Regions from separate parts of the Homo sapiens genome. Here region 1 is linked to region 2. Evidence: fine-mapped expression QTL. A gene starts in region 2. The other region holds a variant in brackets. All regions are shown on one strand. Distances are between the middles of the regions.

Region 1 (8,824 bases), 160 kb before region 2:
CTCGCCAGTGGGAAATAGGGCCCTTGGTACCTTTTGCTCCTAATAGTCACATCTGTGTTTAGAAGGGCCAGGAACTCCCACCTCCTGCGTCAGAGCCTGTCAAGCATGTCAGGCCTAGAGTGGCTTTCTGATCCCTGTTATACACCTATTTATAAGTTATCTAAGCTAATTCTGAGCTCAGAGTAATTTTCCTGAAGGAGCTTCAGGTAAATAAGGATGACAAAGAACTAAAACCAAATTTACTGTAAATGATAACTTCAGCTTCTAAGAAAAGAATTACTGACTCCACACTGATGTCAATAGCTGGAGAGCAAGGGCTACGAGGAAGAAAACCAGTGAAATAATCCATGGTCATGCCACTTGCCCAAATATCTGAATTGCTTATCATTAAAAAAGAGCAAATTTACGTTTATATGTGGCTTCATAATTTGTAAGATACGTTTACATGTTATTTATTTGATTTTCCCAACAAACCTATAAAACACTTTGGCCAAGTATTTTATGCACAAATGATCTCATACCAAGCAGGAAAGAACAGGTCTTACACTGATAGACCTTGGTGTTTATAAAATAGCTCTGTTTTGGAAATTAATTTGGAGGAATCTTATTTATAATCTGAGAAATCTGTACTAAGGGAGTCTGCTCTTAAAGGGAACATGGCTAGTCATGTGAATAGATCTCTAATGTAGCATATAGAATCTTTATTAATATGGATTGTTGCATAACCAATTATCTTACATCAAGACATGCTTACTGTAAGGCACAGTAAAGGCTCCTGTGATGATGGCTCTGCACTGACCCCTAGTGGTGCCCTGCAGTCTCTCTCCTGCAGTTAATAGGAAAGGCAGAAATGAACCCTTCTTGAATTTGTTCTGCTGTCTCTAGATCTGGAAAAGAGACCCTGAGCTATTCAAATAAAGATGGTCACGGCCGGGTGCGGTGGCTCCCGCTTGTAATCCCAGCACTTTGGGAAGCCGAGGCGGGTGGATTACCTGAGGTCAGGAATTCGAGACTAGCCTGGCCAACATGGTGAAACCCCGTCTCTACTAAAAATACAAAAATTAGCCAGGCATGGTGGCAGGCGCCTGTAGTCCCAGCTACTCAGGAGGCTGAGGCAGGAGAATCACTTGAACCCGGGAGGTGGAGGTTGCAGTGAGCCGAGATCACACCATTGCACTCCAGCCTGGGGCACAAGAGCGAGACTCCGTCTCAAAAAAAAAACATTAAAGATGGTTACATCCATATGCCAAGGTATTATGTTGCCACTAAAAATTATTTTTTAAAGAATCTTTTGTCAGAGAAAATGTTTAGAATATAACATTAAGTGGGAAAAAAGATACAAAACTACATGTATAGTGTGGTCCAAATTTTGAAATAGATATGTATATATTTATTTAACATATTATATATATGAACTTTTTAAAAAAGACTAGAAGGAAATGTACTAAAATATCAAAACAGGTTATCTCAGGGTAGTGATGTTATTACTGAGCTTTATATTCTGTAATCATGTTTTCCTTTTTTCTTTCTTTCTTTTCTTTTCTTAAGAGATGGTGTCTTCCCGGCCGGGCGCGGTGGCTCACGCCTGTAATCCCAGCACTTTGGGAGGCCGATGTGTGTGGATCATAAGGTCAGGAGTTCGAGACCAGCCTGGCCAATGTGGTGAAACCCCGTCTCTACTAAAAATATAAAAATTGGCTGGGCGTGGTGGCGGGCGCCTGTAATCCCAGCTACTTGGGAAGCTGAGGCAGGAGAGTCATTTGAACCCAGGAGGCGGAAGTTGCAGTGAGCCAAGATCGCACCACTGCACTCCAGCCTGGGCGACAGAGCAAGACTCCGTCTCACCGAAAAAAGAAAAAAAAGAGAGAGAGAGAGATGGGGTCTTCCTGTGTAAGGCTGGTTTTGAATTCCTGGCTCCTAGGGATCCTCTTGCCTCAGCCTCCCAAAGTGCTGGGATTATAGGTGTGAGCCACTGTGCCCAGCCCCCATGTTTTACTTTTATCAGGTGACATAATTAAAAAAAAACCAAAAGCTAGTCTCACAGCATCTGAGAGTCTGGGAGTCAGATGCATGTTAAAGTCAGAGGAATGAGGTCCAGTGCTGGCTTGGCTTGCTTTGCCTTATCTTTGGTTATTGTCTTAGCAACATAAAATTATTCAAGGTCTTGAAGCCACCTTGGGCTTACCTTCAAGTGTCCTTTTAGTGGGACAGAAGTATCTGTGATAGGCTCTGTTCACAGTCTTGACTGTTATAAGAAGCACTCTTGTGCGTAGCCACCTCCCCTCTGCTAGAGGCCCTGGCTGAATCCAAGAGGAACAGCAAAGGCTGTGCCTCCAACCAACTGTGGAAATTCAGCCATGTGGTTGAGTTACTTTTTTTTCTCTGAAACTTATAGCAGTCAATAAATTTTCAAACTCGAAGAGCCCCCAATTCCCAGACTTATTTGAATCCCCAAAGACACTTCTGGAGACATTCTCTTCACAGAAAATAAGTCTGGCAAAAGGGAATGCGATGATAGATCCACAATACTCTTTTTCTTTTCCTTTTCCTTTCCTTTCTTTCTTTCTTTTCTTTTCTTTTTTTTGTGTGTGTGTGTGTGTAACAGGGTCTTTGTCAGCCAAGCTGGAGTGCAGTGGCACAACCATCGCTCACTGCAGCCTCAACCTCTCAGGCTCAAGCAATCCTTCTGCTTCAGCCTCCTTGCATGCCACCATGCCCGGTTATTTTATGTTTTGAAGAGATGGGGTATTGCTATGTTGACAGGGCTGGTCTTGAACTCCTGGGCTCAAGTGATCCTCCCATCTTGGCCTCCTGAAGTGCTGGGATTACAGGTATGAGCCATCAGCCTGGTGCCACACTACTCTTAACTGAAATTATTCTATGTCCAGCCAGTGAACAGGATAGCATTTTTACTTCTTTGTTCTTTTTATTTTTTGTGTATGCCCAAAAGGTAACATTTATTGTCTTTAAAAAGGCAAATCTTACATAAATAAATAACAACAACAACAACAACAAAATTCCCATTTAATTCTACCTCCTAAGATACAACCACCATTAACGATTTATATTTTTTCACTCTTTGGAGCCAGTCTGCTAGGGACCAAATTCTAGCTCTGCCAACAGCTAGCAACCTTGGACAAGAACTTAACCTCTTTGTACATGCTTCTTTACCTGTAAAATGGGGGTAATGATAGTACCGATTACATGCGGCTGTTTTGAGAATTAAGTTAATATATGTTAAGCACTTGAAACAGCACCTGGCAATAGTTAAGTGTTCAATAAATGTTGGCCTTTTTCTAAGTGTGAATGAGCATTTTTTTTTTCATTAAAAAATTTTTTTGGCCAGGCATGGTGGCTAATGCCTGCAATCCTAGCACTTTGGGAGGCCGAGGCAGGTGGATTGCCTGAGCTCAGGAGTTCAAGACCACCCTAGGGAAAACATGGTGAAACACAACATCTACTAAAATACAAAAATTAGCTGGGCTGGGTGGTGCTTGCCTGTAATCCCAGCTACTCGGGAGGCTGAGGCAGGAGAATTGCTTGAACCCAGGAGGCAGAGGTTGCAGTGAGATTGCACCACTGCACTCCAGCCTGGGCCACAGAGCAAGACTCTGTCTCAAAAAAAAAAAAATTTTTTTTTAATTGATATGGGATCTTGCCATGTTGCCCAGGCCAGTCTTGAACTCCTGGGCTCAAGTGATCCTCCCAGCTTGACCTCCCAAAATGCTGGGATTATAGGTGTGAGCCACCTTGCCTGGCCAGCTTCTTTTTTTTTTTTTTTTAAATAGACATGGAGTCTCAGTATGTTGGACAGGCATATCAGGGTCTTGATACGTAGTTTTGAACTCATGGCCTGAAGCAATTCTGCCTCAGCCTCCCAAAGTGTTGAGATTACAGGCATAAGCCACCACACCTGGCCTGAATGAGCATTTTTTAAAACTGAAAAGTGATCATGCTATATACTTTGCTTTAACCTTTTTTTTTTCACTTCACAATACATCCTGGTTACCTTTTAGTATTAGTATGGAGAAGTCTCTTCATTCTTTTTAATAGCTACATAACTTTTTTGGTATTAACGTGTCATAATTTAACCAGTCTCCTATCAATGGGCATTTGGATTGTCTGTTTTAAAAAAGATGCTAGGGCCGGGCATGGTGGCTCACACTTGTAATCCCAGCACTTCAAGAGGCTGAGGCGGGCAGATAGCTTGAGCCGAAAGAGTTCAAGACCAGCCTGGGCAACATGGCAAAACCCTGTCTCTACAAAACATACAAAAGTTAGCAGGGCATGGTGGTGTGCACCTGTAGTCCCAGCTACTTGAGAGGCTGGGGTGGAAAGATTGAGCCCAGGAGGTCAAGGCTTCAGTGAGCTATGATTACACCACTTCACTCCAGCCTGGGTGATGGAGTAAGACTCTGTCTTCAAAAATAAAATGAAAATAAAAAGTCAGGTGTGGTGCCATGAGCCTGTAGTATCAGCTACTGAGGAGACTGAGACAGGAGGATCCCTTGAACCTGGGAGGTTGAGCTTGTGGTAAGCTATGACTGTGCCACTGTACTCCAGTCTGGAGGACAGCAAGACCTTGTCTCAAAAAAGAATTTTCGGCTGGGTACAGTGGCTCATGCCTGTAATCCCAGCACTTTGGGCGGCCAAGGTGAGCGGATCATGAGGTCAGGAGATTGAGACCATCCTTGCTAACACGGTGAAATCCCGTCTCTACTAAAAATACAAAAAGTTAGCCAAGCATGGTGGCAGGCGCCTGTAGTCCCAGCTACTTGGGAGGCTGAGGCAGGAGAATGGTGTGAACCCGGGAGGCAGAGCTTGCAGTGAGCCGAGATCACGCCACTGCACTCCAGCCTGGGTGACAGAGCGAGACTCCGTCTCAAAAAAAAAAAAAAAAAGAAGATAAAATACTGCATATACCTAAAAGGGAACATTATGGAAATTACATTCAGTTACTAACATCTCCATTTGAGGTTCACTTACTCATTTGACAAATATTTGTTTTTTAATGTGCTATGAAAGATGAGAGGCATGCTGATTTGAAAGCAGCTTCTGTCTTTATGCTTAATTTGGTTGTTTTGTTTTGCTTTGTTTTGCTTTGTTTTGTTTTGTTTGAGGGTCTGGCCCTGTCATCTAGGCTGGAGTGCAGTGATAGGATCATAGCTCACTGTAGCCTTACCTCCTGAGCTCAAGCAGTTCTCCAACCTCAGCTTCTTGAGTAG[C/G]TAGGACTACAGGCACACGCCACCATACCTGGATAATTTTAAATTTTTTTTGTAGAGACGAGGTCTAACTATGTTTCCCAGACTGGTCTCAAACTCCTGGCGTCAAGCAATCCTCCCTCATTAGCCTCCTAAAATGTTAGGATTATAGACATATGAGCCACCACACCTGGCCTTTTTATACATACTTGGTTAAAGACAATTATTAGCAGGACACATGCTTTGATGAAGAAAGTACCCAGTGCTCTGACAGCATGTCTGAGGGCCTTAACCCGGACTTGGAGTTGTCTGTCTGAGAAGGCTTCCTGGAGAATGCTGTATAGGCTTAGCTCTTCCCTGAAAGAATGGAGGTGGGGGCTGGGCGTGGTGGCTCATGCCTGTAATCCCAGCACTTTGGGAGGCCGAGGCGGCAGATCACGAGGTCAGGAGATCGAGACCATCCTGGCTAACGCGGTGAAACCCCGTCTCTACTAAAAAAAAAATACAAAAAATTAGCCAGGCGTGGTGGCGGGCACCTGTAGTCCCAGCTACTCGGGAGGCTGAGGCAGGAGAATGGCATGAACCCGGCAGGCGGAGCTTGCGTCACTGCACTCCAGCCTGGGCGAGAGAGCAAGACTCCGTCTCAAAAAAAAAAAAAAAAAAAAAAAAAAAGAATGGAGGTGGAAGCAGAAGCGAAGAGGATTTCATGCAGAGAACATAGCACACGCAGAGGTATAGAAGCAAGAGAAATTCACATTTGAGGAATTGCTGGTGGTTCTATGTGGCTGGGGCATAGAATTTGAATAATGGGGTTAACTATTATAGTTAAGGTGGAAATAGAAGGACGTGTGGCTGAAGAAGAAGGTATGGGTTGGGTCCTGAAGGACCTTCTTAACTACATTCACATATATGACTTATCCTAAGGGTGATGGGAAACTTTTTAGGGAGGGTATGGCAGAATCAGGTGTCCATTTCAGAAAGATCAATCTGTGATGTGAATATATGTTGAGAGGCTGTTACGCTTAAGTCATGCAGGTAAGAGATTTTGGTGGTTTGAGCTAGGGTGGTAAAATGGGATGGGAGAGGGATGGACAGATTGGAGACTTGTTCAAGACTGGCTGTGGGGGAAAGAAATGGAGAGAAAGAGCTATCTGATCATTCGAAGGTATCCAACTTGGGAAACTGGAGAGGGACAGAGAAAATACAGAACTATGGGGGAAAATGGTTTCAGTTTGGACCCAAAATTGGAGGTTCCTGTGGGACACCCATGTCTGTGGAGTTCAGAAGAAAGACATCCCTGAGCTAGAGACACAGTTGAGATTCTGGAATCCTCAGCGCATATGGTAACTGCAGTATGGGAATGTTTGAGATGGCTGGTTGAGACACCGACAGTGCAAATGAAGCCACAAAGAAGGCAGTTGTAAGAAAGGTAGAAGGTAAATCAGAAGGTTGTTTTCAGCTAAAGACTCAGGTAGATGTACTGCGGTTCTCCATGTGTGAGGCACTATTCTAAGTGCTGGTGATAGAGCAGTAAGCAGGACAAAATTCCTGCTCCTGCATACCTTATGTTTGTGGTAGTTGGAGTAGAGCAAACAAATAAATATATAATTTTAGCCACTGAGAAAAAAAAACAAGGAAAAAATATACAAATACAGAATGATGGAAGGGAGGGGTCATTTTGGATGGGGTGATAAGAAATGACTTAAAAGCAGACGTTTGAGCAGAGACTTGAATAAACTGCAGAAATGAGAACATCTTGGCTTGGTAGTTTCAAAGAATGGAAAGAAGGCCAGAGTAGCTAGAGGACAGTGATGGAGGGACAGGATGGAGGGGCCAGCTCCTATTGGGCTTGGCAGGTCATGACAAAGAATTGGGGTTTTATTCTGAGTGTGATGGGAGGGAAGCCATTGGAGGGCTGACAGTGGGCAGGGGGTAGGGTGGCGTGATCTGAATTACATTTTACAGGGATCACTCTGGTTGCTATTGGGGAATCATTTGTTGGGCTGCCACAGAGGAAACAATGGAGGCCAGATAGGAGTCTGGGGCAGTCATTCAGGAGAGTAGGTGGTGGCTTGGATAAGGGGGGTGGGATGAGAAGTGGTTGGATTCAGGTGTGTGTGTGTGTGTGTGTGTGTGTGTGTGTGTGTGTGTATTTTTATTGTATTTTTTTTGGAGACAGGGTTTCACTCTATTGCTCAGGCTGGAGTGCAGTGGCACAATCTCGGCTCACTGCAACCTCCGCCTTCTAGGTTCAAGCGATTCTCCTGCCTCAGCCTCCAAGTAGCTAGGATTACAGGCCACCACACCTGGCTAATTTTTATATTTTTAATAGAGATGGGGTTTCACCATATTGGCCAAGCTGGTTTCGAACTCCTGACCTCAGGTGATCCACCTGCCCTGGCCTCCCAAAGCGCTGGGATTACAGGTGTGAGCCACTGCGTCCGACCTGATTCAGATACATTTTGAAGTGGGAGCTGAAAAGATTTGCTGCATGTTTGGATATATGGGTGTCAGGGAGAGAGAATAATCAAGGAACACTCCTAGGTTTGTACAGAGGGTCTCTGACTTACTATGGTTCGGCTTATACCTTTTTTTTTTTTTTTTTTTTTTGAGATGGAGTTTTGCTTTTGTTGCCCAGGCTGGAGTGCAATGGCATGATCTTGGCTCACTGCAACCTCTGTCTCCCGGATTCAAGCAATTGTCCTGCCTCAGCCTCCCAAGTAGCTGGGATTACAGGTGTGCGCTACCACGCCCAGCTAATTTTTTATTTTTAGTAGAGATAGGGTTTTACCATGTTGGTCAGGCTGGTCTCGAACTCCTGACCTCAAGTGATCCACCCGCCTCAGCCTCCCAAAGTGCTGGGATTACAGGTGTGAGCCACTGTGCCCCGGCCTCAGCTTATGATTTTTGGCGTTATGATGGTTCAAAAGCAACACACAATTCAGTAGAAACTGTGCTTTGAGTACAACCATTCTGTTTTTCATTTTCAGTACAGTATTTGGTAAATTACATGAGCTATTCAAAACTTTCTTATAAAATAGGCTTTGTGTTAGATAATTTTGTCCAACTGTAGGCTAACTTAAGTGTTCGAGCACGCTTAAGATAGGCTTGGCTAAGCTATGATGTTCAGTAGGTCAGGTGTATTAAATGCATTTTCTACTTAACGATTGTTCATCTGATGGTTTATCTGGACATGGCCCCATGGTAAGTCGAGCAGCATCTGTGCTTTAGCAATTGGGAAAACAGAAAGGAGCATGGCAGCTCACACCTGTAATTCCAGCAATTTGGGAAGTTGAGGTGGGAGGATTGCTTGAGCCCAGGAGTTTGAGACCAGTTTGGGCAAAATGGTGGGACACCCCCAACTCTACAGAAAATTTTTTTTACAAAGGCTCTACTCTACCTGACAAAATCTTATTCCTTAGTATTTAATTTCTCTTCTTAGGGAGAATTTAAATTTAATTAAGTAATTTAAATTAAAATTTTTTCCTGGCAGGGGTGGATAATGAAAAAAAGGTTGAGAAACACTGGCCTAGTGCAAGAACATGGCCTTTGGGAGTCACACAGGCTTGGTATGAATCCTGGCTCCACTACTTGGACACAGTGCTTAACCTCTCTAAGCTTCA
Region 2 (8,824 bases):
AAAGAAAAAGGTTTGGCTGTGTGCGATGGCTCACACCTGTAATCCCAGCACTTTGGGAGGCTGAGGTGGGCAGATCACCTGAGGTCAGGAGTTTGAGGCCAGCCTGACCAACATGGTGAAACCTCGTCTCTGCTAAAAATACAAAAATTAGCCGGGCATGGTGACAGGCGCCTGTAATCCCAGCTACTTGGGAGGCTGAGGCAGGAGGATCGCTTGAATCAGGAGGTGGAGGTTGCAGTGAGCCGAGACAGCGCCATTGCAGTCCAGCCTGGGCAACAAGAGTGAAACTCCATCTCAAAAAAAAAAAAAAAGAAAAGAAAAGAAAAGAAAAAGAAAACAAAAAAGTTTAACAGGGATGTCAAATTTTTTGGTTTCCCTGAGGCACAACGGAAGAAGAATAATTGTCTTGGGCCACACATAAAATACACTAACACTAATGATAGCCAATAAGCTAAAAAATATCTCATAATGTTTTAAGAAAGTTTACGAATTTGTGTTAGGCCACATTCAAAGCTGTCCTGGGTCACATGCGGCCTGCAGGCCATGGGTTGGACAAGCTTGGTTTAGAAAAACATACATTTACATACAAATATTAGTTAGCTTGTATGGTAGAATTCTGGATATTTTGTCTTTATTTTTCTTTCTTTTTTTTTTTTTTTTTGAGGCAGAGTCTCACTCTGTAGCCCAGGTTGGAGTGTAGTGGCGTGATCTCGGGTCACTGCAACCTCTGCCTCCTGGGTTCAAGCGATTCTTCTGTCTCAGCCTCCTGAGTAGCTGGGTTATAGGCACTCACCATCATGCCTGGCTAATTTTTTTTGTAGTTTAAGTACAGATGGGGTTTCACCATGTTGGCCAGGTTGGTCTCGAACTCCTGACCTCAGGTGATCCACCTGCCTCGGCCTCCCAAAGTGCTGGGATTACAGGCATTTACAGGCATGAGCCACCGTGCCCGGACTAATTTTTTTTTTTCTGTAGTGTACTTTTGTCACTAGAGAAGAGGCATTGCAGACTGCGGAACAGGTTTGGCATGGAGGCCTGAAATAGCATATTTTAGGAGCCTGGTATGATAGGACATTGGGTTTGTAGACTCAAGTGGGAGAAAGGAGGCTGGAAAGGCCCTCAGGGGCCAGGTCATGATGAAATCATTACTGGCAACTGCAGGGAAGTGATAAGGATGGAAGCCATAATGCAAGCAATTGAGTATTAACGGAAGTGAGAGTATGGCAAAGGGAAATATGTACTACTCTTTCAAGGTGCTCTGAGATGGAGAATATTCTAAATCTCATTTATAGCACTGAAACTTCTTAAAGAAATCAGTTTAATATCGAAGGTTATTGTCGAATGCCTTGCAATCCATGGATGCTCAAGAAATTAAATGCTCTTAAAGGCTGGGCGCAGTGGCTCACACCTGTAATCCCAGCACTTTGGGAGGCCAATACGGGCAGATCAGCGGAGGTCAGGAGTTCGAGAACAGCCTGGTCAACATGGTGAAATCCCGTCTCGACTAAAAATACCAAAAAATTAGCCAGGCATGGTGGCACACACCTGTAATCCCAGCTACTTGGGAGGCTGAGGCAGGAAAATTGCTTAAACTTGGGAGGCGGAGATTGCAGTGAGCCAAGATCATGCCACTGCACTCCAGCCTGGGTGACAGAGCGAGACTGTGTCAAAAAAAAAAAAAAGAAAGAAAGAAAGAAAGGAAGGAAGGAAGGAAGGAAGGAAGGAAGGAAGAAAGAAAGAAAGAAATTAAATGTTCTTAGAATTAAAGTTCATAAAATTTGAAAGGTACAAATGATTTTGAGAAATGCCATAAAGGATAGGCCAACGGTACAGTAGGCCCTACCCATGGGTTCCACATCTGTGGATTCAACCAACCACAGATGGAACAGATTTGGAGGCAAGAACAGTTAAAAAAAAATACAATTAAATTAGGTATTATAAGTAATCTAGAGATAATTATATAGTGTATATACATATACATATATAAGTATATGGTAGGAGGTGCATAGGTTATACGTAAATACTACACCATTTTATATAAGGGACTTGAGTATCCATGGATTTTGGTATTCTCAAGGGGTCCTGGAACCAATCCCCCATACATATCAAGGGAGAACTAAACATTCTTTTTATACTAGTTGATCCTTCAGGTTAGTATCAAGGGACAATCTATGGGAAAGCATGCCACTTTGTCAATGCCAGCCTCAAAGAGGTATGGGATGTGTCTCTAAACATCCCTAGCTTCCTTTAACCATCTTTAGTTACTAATGAGTGTTTTTAAACTCTGGAATGTATATTTTCCACTTCCACTAGGCCTAAGGGTCTTCAGTCCTCTAAATTACTACCTGTTAAAGTTTCTCTTCTAGTTTTTCTAGGCTTTCCCTCTAGTTCTCATGTTGTGATATTTGGTCAAAAGTGGAAGAAATATAGAAAACAGCACATACTTTGGTGAAATTAGACTTGGTTTAAAATGTCAGCTCTAGGCCAGGCGTGGTGGTCCACGTCTGTAATCTCAGCACTTTGGGAGGCCGAGGTGGGTGGATCATTTGAGGTCAGGAGTTCGAGACCAGCTTGGCCAAAATAGTGAAACCCCACCTCTACTAAAAATACAAAAATTAGCCGGGCGTGGTGGCAGGCACCTGTAATCCCAGCTACTCGGGACGCTGAGGCAGGAGAATCGCTTGAACCCGAGAGATGGAGGTTGTAGTGAGCCAAGATTGCGCCACTGCACTCCAGCCTGGGCAACAGGGTGAGACTCTGTCTCAAAAAAATAGATAAATAATAAAATAAAATGTCAGCTCTACCATTTACCAGCAATATGACCTTAGCCTAATTACTTAAAATTCCCTGTTCTCCACATACAAAAAAGGGATACCATTTGCTACTTGCCTCTTAGGGCTGCAGTGGGTATTACGGGAGATATGTACCAAGGGTTTTTTTTTTTTTTTTTTTTTGAGACGGAGTCTGACTCTGTCACCCAGGCTGGAGTGCAGTGGCACGATCTCGGCTCACTGCAAGCTCCGCCTCCCGGGTTCACGCCATTCTTCTGCCTCAGCCTCCCAAGTAGCTGGGACTACAGGCGCTCGCCACCACGCAGGGCTAATTTTTTGTATTTTTAGTAGAGACGGGGTTTCACTGTGTTAGCCAGGATGGTCTCGATCTCCTGACCTCGTGATCCACCCGTCTCGGCCTCCCAAAGTGCTGGGATTACAGACGTGGGCCACCGCGCCCAGCCTCCTTTTCAAATCCTACTCTTAAAACTTTTTTTTCATATAGAAGCAACTAAAAGTTAACACCGGAACAGTCAACTCGATTAACAGCCTGCCAAAAGATCCGATCATTTCAAATTGAATTTCCAATTAGAATATTCACACCATAGAAACACTTCTGAGATAACTCAGCACTATAATGGAGATCCTTCAAGGTTATTTAGGTTACAATCATCCAAGCCATTTTTACCTTGGTTTTCCCTCTTAGAAGTCTCCGCTGCACCTGTCAGTTCTCAAATGCACAAGTCCTTGCCAGACCACCCAGCCTCTATGACTCCTGAAGCAAGCAACACAGGACCAAGGAAAATTCACACAAGCGCTAACAAGTCTGGTTTGATTATTTTCTGCAAGCTCATCCAATAGTTCCTCAGCGACTGAGTCTAGACTTGAGGAAAGAGGACTGAGTGAGGCCATCATTCCTTGTTGTCATTTTAGATTAGGTCTTCCTGACAACGGCCAAAACGAGTATTCTGGAAATCATGCAGACTTTCCTCTGTCTCTTTATATGTGTTGGATACAAACACGTTTCATTTTAGAAACCTCCAGAAGAGACTGGCCACAGAGGTTTTTGCTTCTATTAAACCCCTTTGCCTAGTTTCTCCCCACCCAAGAGAATCAATACATCCTAATGTCATCCTCCGGCACACACTGTACATTTCCTCTAACTCTGCCCTTTTGGCTATCATTTGCTCACAGCTCCGTGGGAAAGTTCCCCCAAACCATTACAATTATCTCAACCGGACCGGGCTACAGGCCAAGCAACTCGGAGTCACCGCTCGGCCTGGCCCGGCCACGCCGACGAGCGCGTCCTGGCCCGCTCCTTACCTGTGGCCGAAGCCGAAACCCGGCCCAGCGCCCTGCGTCCGACACCCCTGCCCGGCCTGCCTCTCGGCCTGGCCGCCGCCTCCGCGATCGCAGCGGTTTTACTGCCCCGGATGCCTCTAGGACGCAGCCAGAACCGTAGCTCAGTCACGCCGCGCCTCTCTTCACGTAGCCTCCGCCGTCCGTTACGTAGAATGCGAGCGGCTCGTCAGCGCCTGCGCGCAGCCTGCGGGGCGGGACGCAACCCCGGGGAAAGCGCGAGACCTCCCTCTCTCCCGCCCGGCTGAGGCGAGGTGGGGCTTTTGGGAAAATTACATAATCCCCGCCCCTGGGCCGGAACTGCCCTCGCCTATCCCAATCCTCCTACCTAGGATTCCGTCAAGTTGACGTCACACGGAACCGGTGCTCCGGAAGCTAAAGGTGGCCATGCTGTGTGGGACCACGTGGCCAGAGGCAAGAGTGTCGCTCTAGTAGTATATGCAACAGTTTAAACTATAGGCATGTTCATGTAAATATGGTTTCTGTCCAACCCGTTTTCTCTTGGGATTTTTGGCTAGCCCCTTGACGCCACTTTTTCTTCATTCGCAGACCCACTTTCTAGATGGGTCATGAACACTGTCCACCCAACTGCAGTTTCCCGTCAGAGTATCTGAGGAGCCTGTGAGGCGTTCTGGAGCTTTAAGGTCAGGCGCCTTCCGGGAGCCGTAGCCCCGGCCCCGCCCTTCTGCCCGCGCGTTCCTCACTGCGCATGTCGCGTTTTTGTTCCCCTCCCCCCTTCAGCAACGGGCCGTGAGGCGGTGGCGGTGGTGGCGGTGGCGGCGGCGGTGGTGGTGGTGGCGGCGGCGGCGGCGAAGGGGGCGGAGAGGAAGGAGCGCGGCGGGACCGGGCCGGGACAGCGCGTACTTTGGGCTCCGGGATTCGCTCCGCGCCCGCGGTTGTAGCAGCTGCCGCTGCAGCCATAGCAGCAGGTTTGTGCGTGGGGTTTCTGGACGCAAGGCCGCCAGTCCTTGGGGGCACTGGAGGCAACTGCTGGGCCTAGCGAGGGCGGAGGAACCGCGGCCTCGCTTAACAAAGAGTCGGCAGAGCCTCGGGGCACCGGCGGCCGGGGTGCCGGGAAGGGGTGGGAGTGGGGGCTGAGGCCTCTAGGGTTCCTTCCTAGCCGCGTCGCCCTCCCACAGCTCCCGCTTCCCTCACAAGTCTTACCGAGGCCCAGTTGGCGGCTTTCCGGAGGCGGCGCCCCCTCGCCTAGGAAAAGGATTTGCAGGGTGCCCGGCTCCAGGGCAGGAATAGCGCGGGGAGAATTCTGACCCAAGGAGGCAGCGCTTGGGAGATGCAGGCCTCCGAATTTGGGGTCCTGAGAGGCAAAAGCTGCCAAATGAGAGGAGTGAAAAGATATAGGCGATGATCTTTGTGCAGCGTTGAGTAGGTCGATTATTAGCATCACTGTAGTCACACAAACTTTTTTGCGGCCTACTTGAGAGCGTATCTGATGTGAATAAATAATTTACATGGAATTGCAAACATATGCATCAAAAACAGGAGAAGCTGTCGAGAGTTTTGGGGAATTACATTCTCATCACTGAGAATTTCCCTCTTGCCCCCACTCCTATAGGCAGTTATCCAATTTCTTGTGGCTTCCCTGTGTTTTCTTTTTGTCAATGATGTTTCTATGTCTGTCCTCTCTCGTATACACACCCAGGACTTCCTCAAGCGCAGGGACTATGTCTTAAGGCGCTTTGCAGAGCCAAGCTCATTTCTGGCACATAAGAGGTGAGCAATGAGTGTTTCGTACAAAAATTAATGTTTATATTTTGACAGCTGGGAAAAGAAAATATATCTTCCTGTACCTGGAAGAAGCATTGTGTAGCCTAATGTGCAATTCGTTCATTCAAGGGGTATTTTTATTGGTGCCTATTCTCTAGCGCCGTTCTAGGTGATAGGGATAGGTGTTAGACCCCTGCCTTTGGGGAACTTAACTTTCTAGTAGCGGGAGGAGAGGCAAACAGATACATATATTATACTGAATGTTAGAAGATGATCAGTATCTTAGGGAAAAGAAAGCTGGAAAGGGGGTTGGGGAGGTGGTGGTGTTGGAATTTGCAATAAAGTGGTCAGGGAAGTCCATACAGACAAGCTGATATTTAAGCGGACTAGAAGGTGGAGTGAGAGCCTACGTTTATCTGGGGAAAGGAACGTTCCAAGCTAGAGAATAACAAACATAAAAGCCTTGAGGAGGACAAAGCTGGCCCGTTAAGAGTGTGAAGACCAACGCGTTTGGAGCACTGTGAGCTGAGGGAGTATTAGGAGATAAGGTCAGGGAAGAATTGGGGGAAGGGAGTGAGCGGAACAACCAAAGCCTTTTAGGCTGTTACTTAGGAAGGATCTGAGGGTTTCGATCAGAGGAATGATAATATCTGATTTATATTGTAACAATTTAATATAAGAGAGGAGTGCAGTTATTTAAATTTGTTTTGTTACATTGATAGTCATATAATCAGCTCTTAGTTGCTTTAAGCTGACAGGAGAAGGGATGCTTCTAAAATAACCATAACCTAGCATTTACTTGTATTTGGTTTAGAAGAATGTGATTACGTTCTTGAGTTTTTATTTAGATTCTCATCAAAGAACTGACCTGTATATAGTGTGTGAGGTACTCTCAAAGTATATGTAGAGTAGATGCTAATCACTGTCACTAGAACTCTTCCTTCCACCTCCAAAAATACAAGTGATAAAGTAATGTGGCTTATATAATCAGTTGTTTTTAGTCCACTATATTTAAAGTCATTTAGATCATATCTTATTTTCCGCCATTGCCGAAAACACAAACTAGCTAAATTGTCTTCCTTTATAAGTGTGTTCCACATTTATTCTCACTTCCTAGCCTTTGCTAGTTCAGTCTTTCTCCCTGGAATGTCTTCGTCTGCACGTCTCTACCCAGCTTTCATCTTTCTGTGCCTAGCCTGGCTTCTGACTCTGTTATGACACTTGCCCTTGCTTGTTAGCTCATGGTGATCTCTGACATCTTCAGTGTTCTTGTGGCGCTTATGTATGAAATACCTGAGTTGAAAGAAGTCTGATAGTCTCAATTTACCGATGAAGAAATTGGTTCTTCAGAAATAATGTAATAATGAAAAACACGATGGTAGCTGACATATTGAACAAGTACATTTTTGTGTATGAACTTAATTTTTCACGCCAACTCTTGAGATAGGTGATAGTCTCATCTTTTTTTTTTTTTTTTGAGATGGTGTCTGGCTGTGTTGCCCAGGCTGGTCTTGAACTCCTGAGCTCAAGTAATCCGCCTGCCTCAGCCTCCCAGAGTGCTGGGATTACAGGCGTGAGCCACCACACACAGCCTCTTACCATTTTTTATAGATGAGGAAACTGAACCCAGAGAAGCTAAATAACTTCCCTGAGGTTCATATCAAGTTAGTAGCAAAGATAGTTTACACATAGCCTGTGCTACTTTACTATTCTGTTAAGATTTCCTAGGAAACCACCGTGTTTTATTTATTTTTTAGAGACTGTCTTGCTGTGTTGCCCAGGTTGGAGTGCAGTGGTCCAGTCAGCTCATTGTAACCTGGAACTCCTGGGTTCAAGCAATCCTCTTGCCTCAGCCTCCTGAGCAGCTAGGACTACAGGCGTGTGCCACCATGCCTGGCTAATTTTTTAAATTTTTTTGTAAAGACAGGGTTTTATTGTGTTGCCCAGGCTGGTCTCAAACTCGTGGCCTTAAGTGATCCTCCCACCTTGGCCTCCCAAAGGGCGAGGATTACAGGTGTGAGCCACCTTGCCCAGCCAGCCATAGGATTTAGTGCCTAGAACCATACCAAATAGGACTTGATGCCATCTTGACTGTTTCTCTTCAGCCTAGTTGTAGATCTCCTTTAGTCTTTTACATATTGAATAAATGAGTATCTAATATTGAAAACATGCTATAAGAGAAAAGTGAATAAGCCTGTTTCTTCAGCCATGAATCCTATAATACGGAGTTGGACTGGAAAGGGAGTTTGAGGAAGGAGATGCCATTTCTTTTTCTTTCTTTTTTTTTTTTTTTGAGACGGAGTCTCACTCTGTCGCCCAGGCTGGAGTGCAGTGGCGCGATCTTGGCTCACTGCAAGCTCCGTCTCCCGGGTTCAAGTGATTCTCCTGCCTCAGCCTCCGGAGTAGCTGGGACTACAGGTGCCCACCACCACGCCTGGCTAATTTTTTTGTATCTTTAATAGAGATGGGGTTTCAGCATGTTAGCCAGGATTGTCTCGATCTCCTGACTTCGTGATCCACCCGTCTCGGCCTCCCAAAGTGCTGAGATTACAGGCGTGAGCCACCGTGCCCAGCCAGGAGATGCCATTTCTTTGGGGATATCATATTCATGTCTTTAGGAGTTGGTATTTGAGATATGCTTTGAAGGATAGGACTTTGGTAGGTACTCACAGTTTATAGGAAAGAGATTTGATGTGAAGGGGATCCAGTTAGAGGGAAGAGGATTCACTAGAGTGCTTGTTTTCCTGGAAAACTGAGTACGTGTGGAGAGACCCTGGGAAATATGAATGGTAAAGTAGTTTGATGCCACAATGGAGGGTCTCATTCCAGCATGATTAACTGTGGAGAGCTATGGAATTGAGGAGAGTGACATAATCAGAAATGTGTGTTCTGGAAGAACCTGGAAAGGGTTTTCGATAAGCATCTGAATACTGACCTCCCTTCTGTGAGACTTTTTCTGGTTCCACGGT

The links.
Region 1: its variant is fine-mapped to the expression of CCDC47 in atrial appendage (GTEx, PIP 0.99).

Annotation. Positions count from the first base shown.
Region 1 is chr17:63,611,620-63,620,443 of GRCh38, forward strand. No RefSeq gene overlaps it. Among named protein-coding and RNA genes, the nearest start is that of MAP3K3, 6.4 kb to the right of the region's middle. The variant C/G (reference allele first, on the strand shown) is at 5,226.
Region 2 is chr17:63,769,318-63,778,141 of GRCh38, forward strand. CCDC47 (coiled-coil domain containing 47) reads right to left here and starts at 4,280. Exons shown (of 13, transcript NM_020198.3): 1 at 4,095-4,280. DDX42 (DEAD-box helicase 42) reads left to right here and starts at 4,853. Exons shown (of 18, transcript NM_203499.3): 1 at 4,853-5,059. RefSeq lists enhancers at 4,155-4,739, 4,452-4,761 and a silencer at 4,892-5,181.